2 separate regions of the Homo sapiens genome follow, and region 1 is linked to region 2. The links come from fine-mapping of genetic effects on gene expression. Tissue or cell type: spinal cord. Region 2 holds a variant in brackets; the other region holds the start of a gene. All regions are shown on one strand. Distances are from middle to middle.

Region 1 (8,164 bases), 120 kb before region 2:
TGAAAAGTCACATTCAAAAACAAACAATATCAATTCCTGCCTACTCACAGTCATGTGTGTTTGAAGGCAGACTTCATTGTCTATCATCCCAGCGTTTTCGGTAACAGTTATATAATAAACAATTTCTGGTCTTCAGACAGAGAATATTGTAGAGCAACATGTTGACATGTTGATTGCCTTAAAAAAAATAGATGTTGAGTGCAAGCAACCACTAGCATCAGTATTACACATCCATCTAAATATCCATCAGTTGGGAACAATAGATACTGGGGACTCCAATAGTGGGGAGTGGGGGCAGGGGAAAGGGGTGAAAAACTACCTATTAGTTACTGTGTTCACTAATGGGGTGACAGGTTCAATTAAAGGCCAAACCTCAGCATCACAAAATATACCCATGTAACTAACGTGCACATGTACCCACTGAATCTAAAATTTTTTTAAAAACAATCAATCAATCAATCATTATCCATCATTGCTCCATCAACTCTCACCTACCAAACTAGAGCCAATGGGTGGGATGGGGAGTAGAAGTGACGGGGAAGAAGGATTGAAAACATTTTAGAGAACACATTGAACTCAAACTGAAAAAAAAAGAACATATTGGATTCAGAAAAATGAATTAGAAAATTTGGAATCATTTACACTAACACATTCAGGAGATGGACAAGCAGACTCCCACTGATGACTGAGCTGCTTAAGAGTTGATACACGTACAATTAAAACTAAAGTTTTTCTCACTGAACTCTGGGTATTTGGCTTAAAAATAAAATAAAACTAAAGATGTGGTGGCTTATGCCTGTAATCCCAGTACTTCAGGAGGCTGAGGCAGGGGGACTCTATGAGGCCAGGAGTTCAAGACCAGCCCGGGTAATATAGTGAGACCCTGCGTTTACAAAATATAAGAATAAAAAAATAGCTGGACATGGTGGCATGGGCTTGTAGTCCTAGCTATTTGGGAGGCTGAGGTGGGAGAACTGCTTGAGCCTAGGAGTTCAAGGCTGCAGTGAGCCATAATCACGCCATTGCACTCCAGCTTGAGTGACAGACACTCTGGCTCTTAAAAAAAAAAAAGTTAAAAAACATTTTATTAAATAATAATACATACAGCAACCTTGATATTGGCTCTTTATATTTTATTCTTAAGAAAAAATATTGGCCACACCCTAGGAATGTGTCACAACTGCAGTTTGAAAAATGCTGACATAGAGCAGCAAAGGTACATTAGTATTAGTGCTTTGTGAACTTCCTCAAGGTCCTATTTTTACTCTATGTTACTTGTTAAGTTCAGAGACAATACACTTGTGAAAGTGAACTGCATCTTTCCAGCCCTCTATTTGCACATTTCCTTGGCATTCTGAATTAGAAACAGGGCAGTCATTCTCTCTAAGGGGGCCAGTGGCAGGTGAGGGCAGCTCATATATACAAGTTCTTCCTAAGTTATACATTCATTTGTTTTGTACTTGCTTATTGGTTTTCACTGTCTTCCACCACAAGAACCTTCTTTTCTTGCATCTCAGACTAATTCTTCTTGGTTTCAGTATTTAAGGTTAGTCAACTGAAACTTGCTAATTTAGGAATACCAGGATAAGTAAGAAAAACTCTTTACCTGTGAGTAACTCATAGATTAGAAGAAACAGACGGGTGTAATAGAGTGAGATGTTGACAGTGTTCCAGCAGTAGGGAAAGATGGATGTAACTGACAAGGGCTGGAGTTGCTTCCTCAGAAGAGATGTAATTGAAAAAGAAATTACCTAATTTTGCCTAGGGTAAGAGATGGTATTCCTGGAAGATGGAACAGCATGCACCGAGGCATGGAGGCAGGAGGTAGGGAGAACAGAAAATTCCATTTGTCTAGAGTTCCAGGAGAGTGATGGAAGATGAGGCTGCTGTGCATATCTGTAGGCCTGGGGAGCGCCCTCAGGTGACTCTGTGCTCTCACTGTTCTCTGGAAGGAAGCAGGAAGGGGTAGGTTCAGATTTCAGGGTCTCAGTTTTACTTCTTTCTACTAGACTATAGCTCTACCGAAAGTCTGGAATTGTCTTATTACCTGAATCCTCACTGCCTGGTACAGGGGCTGGTATGGACCTAGTGGACATTCAGAGGGATATCAGACAATTAGCTCACCCCTGTAGCCCCACACTTGGTGGATATCTGAAACTCAGGTCCAGTCTGCGCTCTCGTCTTCAAGATGAATAAAATAAAATTGCAGCTTTTTTGAAATAACTTAGGAAAATAAATATTCTCTTTTATTGAGAACTCTTCTCAAAACTACCCCTTCCTGGAAAGATGTTTCCAATGAATTAATATCTTAAAATTATTATCATTTTACCTTCCAGATTCTACAGATAAGGAAAACAGAGATGAATAAAACATAGAAGTATAAAAATGATTGACTTGTGATATCCCAGTTTTCTGTTTCTTACCAGTGGCTGATGCTCAATAACAACTTTAGGTTTTTGATTATTTTTAAATAAATTTATTTTGGATAAGTGTGAATGTCATCAAAGAAATAATGCATGTTAGAGTTGGGTGATCCTTTTGAGCTTATTCTGGCTTATCCCTCTCATCTTATAGTTAAGGAAAGTGGAGCCTAAATAATTTTATGCAAGCTGCCCCAAATTTTTTCTTTCTTTTTTTTTTTTTTTGAGACGGAGTTTGGCTCTTGTTGCCCAGGCTGGAGTGCAATGGTGTGATCTTGGCTCACCACAACCTCTGCCTTCCGGATTCAAGCAATTCTCCTGCCTCAGCCTCCCGAGTAGCTGGGATTACAGGCATGTGCCACCACACCCAACTAATTTTGTATTTTTAGTAGAGATGGGGTTTCTCCATGTTGGTCAGGCTGGCTGGTCTCGAACTCCCAACCTCAGGTGATCTGCCCGCCTCGGCCTCCCAAAGTGCTGGGATTACAGACGTGAGCCACTGCACCCAGCCCAAATTTTCTAATGAACAATGAAAATCAACCAAACAGCCATGACTCACAGCAAGCTACCTTTTTGATGTGTGTCCCTTCAGTCTCTTAAAAATGTGTATGCGTATTCTTATACTAAAATCTTATCATACTCTTTATATTTTTGGATCTTGCCTTTTTCATTCAATATATTTTGAGGATTTTCTCCAAATTTATTCACATGTTTACTACTCGCATATCCACATATTTAATGGCTCCAAAACATCTCATTGTATGGATAAACCATGATTTAAGTGATCTCTTCCCTGTTGTTAGGTATTTAGGTTGTGAGTTTTTGTTGTTGTATTGGCAATAAAACCTTTGCATCAGTCATGAGGCTTCTTTCTAGTTATTTCTTAAGGGAGAAATTACTGGTTTGGCCGAAGGGGACGGACATGTTTAAGGCTTCAGATATATACTGCCAAGCTGACTAGCCCAGGAAAGTTGTACAGATTTGCCCTAATCAATATGTTTCATAACTGTTTTTGAAATCTTGCCAACTTTAAACCTAATAGGTCAGTATCAGTAATTCCCGTTAACGTAAGAGTTCAAATTTGCCCTAGTTTTAATCATTTAAAAATTTTTTATAATTTTTAAATGATAACAATTATGATGCAACCATGACTTTGAGAAGCCAAGAGATCTTATTCTCAAATTGTAAATGAATCCGTAAGAGCTAAGAGAGAAGAAACAGGCTATTAAATGGCCAAAGATCAAATCTGAAATGTCCAGGAGTTTTCCTGTAGGGGTCACTGTTACTGTCAATTTATGCCTGCAAGAAAACTAAAATAGTCACACATTAAAGCATGTATGCACATTTTTAATGTCTGATTCCTCTACATTTCTTAAACTGTAAAATAATAAGAACATGCAGCCAGATAGCATCGCGATACCAACTTCTTTATATAATGACACGTACCATTCCACTCAATGTGCTCCTCAGTTTGAATTTATAAAATATATGCTACTCAAATGAAAGGCACTTATGCCTGCTCTTAGTAGAGGAAGCGCTAGCTAATTGCCTAACGCCCCATTAGCATATGGCCTATACTGACTTGAGAAGGAAAGAACGTTCATTGCTGTGGCCAATAGGATCCCCTCTCCCCACCTTCCCTTTTCTGCATCAAAATCTACACAGACAAAAGTCAGATGTTGTAATATGCATTTTATCGTGTCACTTAAGTACTAAGAGGTGCTTTTAAAGTTTTTATTAATGCTGCTCAAACTTGACCCCGACGGTCCAGGATACAGGCCAAGGTGTCAGTGCGGACACAATCGCAAGGCGGCTGTTAGGCTTCAGGGCTGGGCAGGAAACTTGCCAGGTGCTACTAGGAACGTATCAGCCCTTTCTACAAAGCAGGTGTCTTTCCCATCATAAAATGCAAAGCAATCAGCCGTTCCCTTTCTCCCCAGCCCCCTCGTCCGGAGACCGAGAGGATATTTACCCTGGGCTCTTGCAGTTCTCTTATAACTGAACCCAGCGGCGGCTCCTTCTCCGAGCTCAGAGCCAGCAGGCTCAGGCCCAGCCACACTTTACAGGCAAATTGCCGAGCTGACCAAGGGCTTTGGCCAAGCCCGAGCTGGGCCGGGGCGTCCGGGAAGCGGAAGGAGCCAGTCTAGGAAATCCGGGTGTGCGTGGTGGTGAAGCTGGTGGGCAAGCTTCCACTTCAGGTCCGGGGCTTTGTGTCCCGCAACAGACGCTTGGCGCCGCTCCTCTTCCAGCCTGCTGCCGCCTTCTCCGAGCGAGTGAGTTGGCGAAACTCACTCACCTGTCGGAACCCGGTGCCTGGCGGCCAGACGCGCAGATTACAGCAAACCTTGGCCGGGACGCCCCAGCCAGGGAGGCAAGTGTGGGAGCTGCTCCTAGAGGTGCCAGCTCCCACCCCCAGCTCCGCGCCCCCTGCTCGTCCCCTTTCACTTCCAGGCGCCTTCGGCTTGGGGTGCCCAGAAGGGCAAGTCCAGCAGACGCCAGGGCTGCAGGTTCAAGATGCTCCGCCTCCTCCTGCCACTTAGAGCCACAAACGCTAGCGGGAACCTTTCCACTCAGTCTTAGTCTGCGGTCACTGCTGAGGTTTTCAGAACTTTCCAGGCAAAGGCCAGCCAGGTCCTTTGCCTCCAACCCACTCCGCGCCTACCTCCCGCCTGGGGACACCCCTAGGCCCAGGAGATCCTACTCTCCCCCGAGCACCGACGTTCCAACTCGTCTGCGCCCCCGACTGCTGTCCGGCTCCTGTGCCAAGGGGCGCGCGCATCTTCCCGGGGCCAGCAACGCTCCCAACTTCTCGACTCGCCCTCCTCCTCCCCAGAGCGAGAGTGGGGCGGGCTGAGCCCGGATCCGGGGTGCACTCGAGCGTTCCCAGCGCTCGGCATTCACCCCGCCTCAGAGCCGACTTTCGAAGGGGGATTGAGCCTCGGAGGTCCAGGCGTCTTACTCCAAAGCTCAAGTCGGCCCCCGTCTTTTCTTTCCACACCCCTGTGCCCGTCGCATGCTGGCCGGGTGAGCGGCCGGGCCGAGGATTCGGGTGCCCGGGGCCGCGTCGCCCCGTCGGGTACTGAGCTGAGCGCACCATGGCCGGCTGCTGCTGCCTGTCCGCGGAGGAGAAGGAGTCGCAGCGCATCAGCGCGGAGATCGAGCGACAGCTTCGTCGGGACAAGAAGGACGCGCGCCGTGAGCTTAAGCTGCTGCTGCTGGGTGAGTGGCTGCGTCTCCGACTCCAGTGAGCCGGGCGTTTTTCTTCCGAGCCCTCCCGGCCTCTCCACTGGCACCCGCGCGGCCCTGGAGCCCAGCGGGGTGCAGGGCGGCTTCGTCCTTCTCCCCCTCGGAGCTCACGGATGCCAGCAACTTGGGGCCTTAGGTGCCTGTTCTTTCCATCTCTGGCTGGGCGACTTGCAAAAGCAACACCTTCCCCTGCCCCAAAACAGGATAGGGACCTGTAACACTTAACCTCTTGACCGCTGTACCTTATGTGTTCCGGTGTGCCCCTCTCCTCAAAACCCCGTCCACTCCTCCGCCCGCAGCACACCCAGCTTGGGGTCTGTGGTGACCCACATCTTGGGTTCAGCGCTAGCTCTGACCCGTACGCTTTCAGTTCTAGATGAAGCATCTTGAGAATTTACCATGTGCCAGATCGTGCTAAGTTCTTAAGGGCATCACCACCTGGTGATGCGGGCAGGTGATATCGCTATTCTAGAGAATTAAAACATGGAGGCCTGGAGAACTGACCAACTTGCCCTGATTGAGAAAAGGCAAAGCCGATGCTAGGTCAGCTGTGGGGGTGAAGCCCATGCCGTTGCTGCTCCTCTGACCGTGAGCTCCTATGCCTGCCTCCCATGGGGGTCCCTCAGGCCTTTGTGTTTGCAGCGGACCCAAACCTCCCTTGCCCAGCTTGACTCAGTGTGTCCACGTCCTAGGATTCAGCTTGGCTGCCCTGGTGCCTCTGGCAGGTCTTCATCCAGCTCTTTTGGTGTCTCTGCAAAGGTCTGGGTAGGACATCCACTTTCAAACACAGAAAGAACACAGTTTAAGGTTTGCCCAAGTTATGCCATGAGGCAAGGATCCCATCTCAGACTTTCTAGAACGCTGTCAACACATTTGCTGTTTGAGGAATATTTTACCTTTTCTACCTTTCAGACCATGATATCAGCTGTCAATTTTTTTCTAGATAGCCACAAAGATTTCAACTTTTTTTCTTTCACCCCTTTTGAACAGGAATCTTCTCTTATACCATCTATTTATTCATCTTTATTCCTTGTATAGGAATCACCCTCCCAGAAAGCTTCAAGGAAAGAAAAAGTTGATCTAGTTAGTGTAATATAGAGAAGGCTCTCAGCCAGTATGGCCTTCAGACCTGGGCGGAAGAACCCCCTTATCCTTATCCCCTGGGTTTAAAGGGCCCAGTCTGGCCTTCTGGGGGTTGGGGGGGGGTGTGCCCCTCCCCACAGAGCTGGAAGTCTGTAGGTCCAAAGGGGCTTGCTACCCAGAGACCATGCTGCCCCCTCCCTCCCAAGACCTGGATGGAATGAATACCCAGCCCAAAGGGACCCATACCAGCTTCTAAGGCCTGAGCCCTAGAAAAGAAGGCAGACCTGATCCCTGGAGAGCTCACAAAGGGGCAGCTGTTTGCTGGGGCGTAAAAGTGCTTGGAAATGTGGGCTGGGTAGGAGTGGAGGGAGTCCCCGTGGGTGCCCAAGAGGCCCCCCTAGGAGAGAGGGAGCTTGGGTGGGGAAGGGAAGGGGCTCTGTTCATTGGCCAGGTCTGCTATTTCTGTGTCTGACCCATAACTTTGAAAAGTCTGAAAATTCTAAATTGTCCCTGGCCTTCTAGGCTGTTATAAAGCTACCTTTGTCAAGGGAGGAGGAATACGTGAGAATTTGCTAGCTTGATTAACACTAGAAAATAACTATGGGTGCGGGGCTTTGTACTTTTGCCCTGAACCCCACAAACCAGAGGGGTTTAGTTGCGTATGTAACTTTTTTCTTTATAAGGGCAGGCTGAACCCTATTTCATTTTGCAATGCTTTGATTTGTGTCAATGTATGAAGTACAGTGTCCAGAATATACCAGGAGCTTGACAAATGCTGGCTCTTTGTATGAAAAATTGTGTAGTCAGCTGAGCTGTACTGTATTGGTAATAAGCCTGTTTGATGTAAAATTCTCGCATTTACCCACAAACTAGGGGAGAAATGTTTGTAGGTAAATTGTTTGCTCTGAAAGTCACATTAATCAGGGTGACCCGAGGGTCTTCTTTATCTTCCCAGGCCATTGCTCCAACCCTCCTCCTACCACCTTGAGGCACTGTCTGACCTCTGGAAACTCCCATTTTCATCTTGCGGAGTTGTGACTAGCATATCCCCTTAGTGAAAACTTTCCTGTGAAAAATAGTTTCTAAACCACACAGAGCCGTTCAGAACTCCAAGGATGGACTTCAAAACCTCTGATTTATTTCAATCTGTAAAGTCCTGGGGCATAGCTCCATTTCTTCTCAAGGAAGAGCCAATGACTCAGAAGTGACAGGAATTAGGGGAGGATGTGCACCATTTTGTCTGAAGTCATGCAATTCGAGTGAAAAATTCACCCATCTCTCTAGTGGGTAGATTAGAGCATCCACTGCTCAGGTGCCTCAGTTAAAAACCTCACTTTGCAAATGGGAGTTTGGAATCCTTTTGTGGAGTATGGGATGACCCCCAAAGACACCATCTCTTTCACAATGAAGCATGC
Region 2 (8,201 bases):
TGTTTTTAAAAGAAGGCATACAAATGGCCAACAGGTATGTGAAAAAATGTTCAACATCACTGATTGTCAGGAAATGCAAATCAAAACCATAGTGAGATACTACCATTCCCTAGTTAGAATAGCTACTACTAAAAGACAAAAAATGACATGCTGGCAAGGATGCAGAGAAAAGGGAACTCATACACTGTTGGTGGGAATGTAAACTAATATAACCACTATGGAAAACAGTATGGAGAATTCTCCAACAACTCAAAATAGATTACCATACAATCCAGCAATCTACTACTAGGTATTAATCCAAAGAAAAAAGAAATCTGTATATCACAGGAATACCTGCGCTTGCATGTTTATCACAGCCCTATTCACAATAGCAAAGATAAGGAATCAACCTAAGTGTCCATTGATGGACAGATGGATAAAGAAAGTGTGGTATATATACATAGTGGGATACTATTCAGCCATAGAAAAAGAACGAAATCATGTCATTTGCAGCAACATGGATGTAAATGGAGGTCATTATGTTAAGTGGGATAAGCCAGGCAAAACAAGGCAGGTACTGCATGTTCTCACTCATAGGTGGGAGATAAAACACTTGGTCTTGTGGAGCCGAGAATAGAATAATAAATACCAAAGGCCAGGAAGGGGGTGTGGTTGGGAGGGGAGGATGAAGGGAGGTTGATTAGTGGGTACAAGCATACAGTTAGATAGAAGAAATAAGCTCAATATTTGATAGCAAAGTAGAGTGACCATAATTAGCAACAGTGTATTGTATACTCAAAGTAGCTAGAAGAGAGGACTTGAAATGTTACTGACACAGAGACATGATAAATACTCAAGGTGATGGATACCCCAAATACCCTGGCTTGATTTTATGCATGTAACAGATATTCATAGGTACCCCATAAATATGTAAAATACTTTGTATCCATAAAAAAGATGCATGCAGATGTAAAAAAAAATGCACATATGGCAAATAGGAGAAATATATTATTTTTGATATCTCAAATTAGAAAAATAATTATTCAAAAATTCTCTGTGATTAAAACTTGTTAGCATGACCCATTGACTTTGTCTGATATAAGAGGTACTCTCACAAATCAAGTTAGGACTTGAAAATTCTTTATCAAAATGAGACCCAAAGATGATAGAAAGTAGCAGGAAATATTTGGAATTGCTGCTCTTCTTGGTTAGGCAATAAAGATGGTTTTGCAGATTAACGAATCAAGAGACTAATAAGGCAGGGCACGGTGTCTTACACCTGTAATCCAGCACTTTGGGAGGTCAAGGTGGGCAGATAGCTTGAGACCAGAAGTTCGAGACCAGCCTGGCCAACGTGGTGAAACCCCGTCTCTACTAAAAATACAAAAATTAGCCAGGTGTGGTGGCGCATGCTTGTAATCCCAGCTGCTTGGGAGGCTGAGGCAGAAGAATTGCTTGAACCTGGGAAGCGGAGGTTGCAGTAAACCAAGATCGTGTGACTGCACTCCAGCCTGCGCGACAGAGCGAGACTCTTGTCTCTCTCACACACACACAAAAAAAACCTAACAAAAATAATACAACATATTTTGAATTCTGCTCCGTTGTTCTGCTGTTGTTTTTTAATCTTAAACTGTGTATTGAGCCTCGTCACTTAGTTTCTTTCAACTCTCCTTTTTTATTTTGAAAGCCTTGTATTAATCTCTTTTGTTGAGACAGCAGCCATGAACCCTGTCTCCAATTGTTTCCAGTTCTCTGTTGCCTAGAATTATTGCTACTTCTCCTTTTATGGTGAAAAATAGCACCTCCTCTATTTGCGAGAACAGAAGCTGGGAGAGTGACCTGGCTGTGATGGTGATGTAGGGGCTGGACAGAAACTAGCAGGAGTAACTTGAAGAAGTGAATCTTATCGGCACTTTAAAAATGTTTTCCCCCGGAAATTGAAAAACAGAGCTCCAGAGGGGTATTTTATTCATGCAGAAATAAAATTGGAACTTGCTTGGAAAAAAAAAAAAAACAAAACAACTAAACTGAATGTAATGCAATAGCTTGAGCATTCCAGTCCCAGGCATATTCTATTAGCACAGGTTCCCCTTTGAAGGGCCCCAGAGAAGTGTTTCCCAACCAGCCTGTGGACCGGGTGCATCCAAACCCCTGGAATACTGGTGAAAAATGTATATTTTCAAATCTGTCAAAATTATTAGACCTGACAAGGGGCCCAAGAATCTGCATTTTTAATGAGCATCGTCTCCCTCATTGGATGCTGTCCTGCACTTAGGTAGGGAGTCATTTGGAATTTCTCTCAGCATTAGCTGATTCTCTCATAAATCAGTATCTTTTTTGTTTTTTGTTTTTGTTTTCCTAGACAGAGTCTCGCATGTCGCCCAGGCTGGAGTGCAATGGCGCGATCTCGGCTCAGCTCAGTGCAACCTCTGCCTCCCGGGTTCATGCCATTCTCCTGCCTCAGCCTCACGAGTAGCTGGGACTACAGGCGCCCGCCACCACACCCGGCTAATTTTTTGTATTTTTAGTAGAGACGGGGTTTCACCGTGTTAGCCAGGATGGTCTTGATCTCCTGACTTCGTGATCCTCCCGCCTCCGCCTCCGCCTCCCAAAGTGCTGGGATTACAGGCGTGAGCCACCGCACCCAGCCCATAAATCAGTATTTTAAACAAGCCCCAGGGTTGCAGTACACACAGGTGCAGAAACTCCTGCTGCATGGGTAGCTACTGCCCAAGGTCAGCCATGAGTTCTCTGGGGCCAAGCAGAGTGCCCCCAAGGGCCTGGCACCGTCCTCTGGGCAGGCCTCTTTGCTGCTGAGAAACGCTCCTTCCTAAAGATTACAAAAGGAATTTTCTTAAGTCCTTTATCCCCCCATTAAAAAGCCCTGAAATGGAACCTGAGCCTCCCAGTGTGCTGGCACCTGGCCTCAAGTGTCTTCATCAGAGCGCCTGCTCACTGGTGAGGTTGCTTTGCATACACAACAGACTCATCCACTCTGAGCGGGAAATCCACCTCCTTGTTGCTTTTCAAAACAGAAGCCATCCTGACTGTCTACAGCCAATAAACACCCATTCATGAATATTTTATTAGGCTCTTACTCTGCTCTTTTAGGCTCCAAAGATATCAGGAAACGAGAAAAAAAAAGATCCCTGTCCTTAGAGAGCCAACCTGCTGGTCACATCCGTTATGCGCATGTCTGTCTTCCGCCTGTTGGGCACATAGATGATTTAGACAGCATGAGCAACATCCAGAACTGTGTGCTCATTCTTGTTCTGACTTCTTTTGTTCTATTTACATTGTCTCATGCAAAACTGA[G/C]CTACAAACAGTGGCTTCTCACGATGGTTTCAGAACACATCACAATTGGGAGATGGTGCTTCCTATCTGGGAAGCTTTATCAGCCTGCTTTGGCTCTCTGGGAGGCAGTCTTTCTGAATTTTATGTAAACATTAGAACAATTGGCTTTCTGTTTTGATGTCCTTGGACTATCACTTGGGAAAGATTTATGTTGCTTTGGCCTCTGTTTCCTCCTGGCTCCTAAAGGCCTTTTGTACTTATATGAGTTTCAATCCTTGGTTATTTTGTATTGGGATGAGGTTCATGGGTAGAATTTCGGAAGACTCGAGAGAGAAGAGTGGAGGAATCTCCTTTAAAGATGAAAAGTAAACGGGTAAATTTCACATAAGAAATGATAATTCATGTGTATTATTTTCCAAAATGTGGTTCCCAGATCACTGGTGATAGACAGGATGTTTTTATTTGAAATATTGCTGAAGTCATTTGTTATATTTAGTTTGATCGTGGCAAATAATACTGGTCTTTCACTTGTGACAGGTTTTTTCATTACAAGTTTATTGAAATAATAAAGCTAAATATTAAATAATCACACAGGTGACATATGCGTATGAGAAAAATCACAAGGTTGGTACACAGATAATTGAGGTTTGGGAAATGCTAGTTGAGTGGAAGGCCAGGAGCAAGCGTCTTGTAGGAAAACTCCCAACCTGCAAGGTCAAAGGCTCACAGCTGTCACTCACAGTAAACAGGAAGCTTGTGGAGGTGAGCTTTATAGAAAAGAAATTATCTGTATGTGCCAACTAGCAAGGTCTCTATGTTCAAGTTAACCAGTAATTGAGTGTCCGCCCTGGAAAAGGAAATATCTCAAGTTTAGGGGGAGAGGGGAGGCAGAGGATCCAAGGCAAAGCTGTATAGCAGGAGATTTGGGAGATTATGGGAGTCTTAGACCAGGAGCAGTTTTATCCCCTGCTGAGAGGTCAGAGAGGATCCACGCAGAGAAAGGGACGTTAAGTCTTCTAGTGAATGTATTACTGGCCAGGGTGCCTTCCCCAGAAGCTTGCCGCTGATTTTATGACAAAGGACAGTTGCAGTTGGATGATGGTGAGCAACTATCTCAAATATATCAGGCGCCAGGCCAGCCATGGTGGCTCACGCCTGTAATCCTTGCATTTTGAGAGGCTGAGGCAGGAGGATGGCCTGAGCTCAGAAGTTTGAGACCAGCCTGGGCAACATGGCGAAACCCTGTCTCTACTAAAAATACAAAAATTAGCCAGGTGTGGTGGCACACGCCTCTAATCCCAGCTACTGGGGAGGCTGAGGCACGAGAATTGCTTGAACCCAGAGGCGGAGGTTACATGCAGTGAGCTGAGATCATGTCACTGCACTCCAGTCTGAGCAACAGAGCAAGACTCTGTCTCCAAAATATATATATATGGTGCTGAAAGTTTAAAAGTACTTATTACCATTGTTGGATTTTATTTTCAAATATGAAAACAGAAAAACTAAATGGAGAAGAGCCGTTTCCCCTAATTATATTTGAAACAGAGTCTAGAGACGGAATTGTAATTTTATTCTCTCTTTTACTCTGTGACTTTTTGGATTGGGTCCAGGATTGCAAGCCCTCTGGACTGTGACCCCTCCACCCCTAGCCTCATTACATCTAAGTGAATCCCTTTGGAACCAGACACCAAAATTCACCTTTCAGTTAAAAGACCTCCCACTCCTTGTAAACCAAAAAGCTGCTGCCAGGGTGAGGGTTCCTGTTGTCTTCACTGTGTGTAGCCGTTCAGGCTGCAGAGGACCCTCCACCAGCACATGCATTTTGTGGGGGTGCGGGTGAGAAATTCCTCACAAAGAGATAAAAAAACAAGGCAGAGCGGACGCATGCTACTGAAACAAACCACATATTCTAATAGGTAGTTAGGTAGGATGTAGGATCTAAGTCACCGAGTCCTCCAGTCACCAATAATTTTCACTCTAAAAATCATACCCTTTGGATTTTTCTTTTGCTTTTTGTGAATAAATGAACAGTCATATACTTGATGTCTGAGTGTTGAGTTTCTGTTTAGAACAAGTGAGGAAACTCAACTGAGATCCTTAGCTTGAGTTAAACTGGTCCCTGTGGTCCTGGTCACTGCTGTCATTATAAGACAGATTGATGCCATCATCTACCTTCCCCTGCATTCACCTGCTGCTGGGACCATCTTATTTATAGCAGATCTCTGCAGGCTGAAAGCTAAAGTTCCAGGGATTGAAATCTCTGTACCAGGTGAAGACTGCACGTAAGCTGATGGGAGCGATGGATGAGACCATGTACTTGGGGGAAATAAGCAGTGTAAAAACCAGCTCATAACTAGGGGTGCTATCCTGGGACGTGCATACACCAACATAAACCTGCATTTGGACCCAGGCCACGACACTTCCAAACTGAGTGACCTTGGACAACCAATTTAATCTTTCTGATTTTCCATTTCCCTTCTGGAAAAAAAAAATACACTAGCTGGGTGATGCTGAGGCTTAAATGAGAGTGGAGGATCTCCGCAAGGTGAGTCTCTTTGCTCTCTCAGCCCTCGGTGCTGTGTGTCTTTCAGTCTCTCTTCTTTGCCTTTACTCTGCCCTCTTTTGCTCCGCATTTGGTTTTTTAATTCTTTGAACAACCACAATTTAAAACTAAAGAATATTTTAAAATATGGGTATTTATTGAATACATCTATATCTTCTCTTGTATGAACCCTTAAAATCACTTCTAACGTTTTCTTTTTGAAATACTCCATGTCTGAAATAAAAAATGGGTGGCTTTTAAAAAATGTTTGTGTGTTTGGGGCTGGTGGTGGGGTTAGCTTTAACTATTAATAACATTGTAAGTGAATGGCTCTTATTAGCAAAAAGATTCTCTTAGTGTAGATTTTTGGGTGTGTCTTGAGTGATTTTTCTGGCTTCAGGACCAAAACCACAGCCTGTCTTGAGGTGATTACATAATCTCTGCATTCACATCAGCTTCACAATGTGTAAATGTAGCCATATTAATGTTCGCTTGGGGTAATCTAGCACTGGATTGTAGCTCAACTCTGCCGGGTGGAATAAGAGACCGACGTGGCAGTATCATAGTCACATGCAGGGACTCCAAGATGCTGCAGGAGTAGAGAGCTAATCTGACTTGGGACTTTGAATCAAGCTTGGACAGTATAAGGTCTTTCTACAGGTCCTCACTTCTCATATAGGGTTTGTGCAGCCAAGAGTCATTATGAAATGGTGGCTCCCAGGGGCACGTGGTCTCATCACAGTTTATCCTTGTTCAATTCATGTCTCGTTTTTCTGAGGTTGTCCATGATATAAGACCTATGGGGGAAAGCTGCTGACTTCTCATGTTTGTTCCATTCAATCCTTCATTGACCATTTCTTTGGGTGCTTTCTATAAAGCAGGCACATTGTTCGTGGTGCCCAAATGTGTGAATCTCGGGCCCTGCCTTTACTGGATGAAAGGTATGGTGAGAGATATATTTGCAAGCAAGCATTTAGGCGATGTGCTGCTTCTGGGTATCCAAGGCACTTTGAGGGCCTAAAGCAGGCAGGGCTAACTGTTGGTGGCATGCAGGGGAAGGAAATCCTTTCTAGGATATGTGATGTCTGTGGTGAACATTGAAGGCCAAGGCATTGACACCTGACTTCCAGCCCCAATTCTGCATCTGCACCCAACCTTGGCTTGTCCCCTGACTAATTACCAGTTTTCTGGTCTCTGAGATGGGAGGACAGTGTCTACCTATCCTGTCTCTGGAGGCTGAAACAAGGCCAGTGAGACTGTGTGTGAGGACACTCCCCCATCTGGGGGTTCTCCCATGTGCCCCAGCAGCCTGAGCCTGCAAGACAGTGGGTTGGCTGAGGTTTGAGGTTCAGTGTGTGACTGTGAACTTTGTGTTTGTCCCCTTTAGATCAGACCAAGACATTTTTCTCTAATAATTGAGTTGGTCATTGTAGTTCAATTCTGAGTAAATCCCAGTTCTTTCTCTTGCCGACTGGGAGCTTGCAGAGATTATTTAACCAATTAGAATCTTAGGTTTCTTATCTGTAAAATGAAGATGATAATTGTATTCGTCTGTTTTCACATTGCTATGAAGAAATCCCTGAGACTGGGTAATTTATAAAGAAAAGAGGTTGAATTGGCTCACGTTTCCACAAGCTGTACAGGAAGCATGATGCTGACATCTGCTCGGCTTCTGGGGAGGCCTCAGGAAACTTACAATCATGGTGGAAGGTAAAGGGGGAGCAGGAACTTCATGTGGCCAGAGCAGGAGCAAGAGAGAGTGAGGAGGGAGGGGTGCCATACACTTTTAAACAACCAGATCTTGCAAGAACTCTCATGAGAACAGCACCAAGGTGAGGGTGCTAAACCATTCATGAGAAACCACCCCCATGATCGAGTCATCTCCCACCAGGCCCCACCTCCAACACTGGGGATTACAATTCAATGTGAGATTTGGGTAGGGACACAGGTCTGACCTGTATCAGCAATAGCATATATTTCATCAAGTGTGTGTGGTTGTGAGGAGCCATGAATAGGACACATCATGTTCCAAACATGGTAAAGGGGTGCCATATGATAAATTATCTTTATCAAAGAAAATATTAGCAAATATTTTAATTGTTGTCTAAATTGCTATCACTTATACTGCAACTTTTACTACCTTTTCAAATAAACTCTCAATCTAATATGAATGTAGAGTTTTGATGTCATTTTTCACATATGTTGTATCTGGACCTCTAATGCACATTTAAGAACAATAGGGATGGCTTCATACTGTAACACGTTCCTTGGCCGCCATGTGCAAGTGTTGTGAGTTTTGAGGACCTCCTGAACTGCGTGTTGAGACATGAAAAGAAGCAAGCACATAGACATTTGGCACCTCTGGGAAATGGTGCTTTCTTGTGCA

The links. PIP is the estimated chance that this variant, and not a neighbour inherited with it, causes the effect.
Region 1: it holds the start of GNA14, and the variant in region 2 is fine-mapped to the expression of GNA14 in spinal cord (GTEx, PIP above 0.99). The same link has a PIP of 0.9 or more in substantia nigra.

What each region holds. Positions count from the first base shown.
Region 1 is chr9:77,645,145-77,653,308 of GRCh38, reverse strand. GNA14 (G protein subunit alpha 14) reads left to right here and starts at 4,987. Exons shown (of 7, transcript NM_004297.4): 1 at 4,987-5,639. The coding sequence starts at 5,516.
Region 2 is chr9:77,529,685-77,537,885 of GRCh38, reverse strand. All of the region lies in intron 1 of GNA14 (G protein subunit alpha 14), which reads left to right. Among named protein-coding and RNA genes, the nearest start is that of GNA14-AS1, 86 kb to the right of the region's middle. RefSeq lists an enhancer at 3,120-3,632. The variant G/C (reference allele first, on the strand shown) is at 3,295.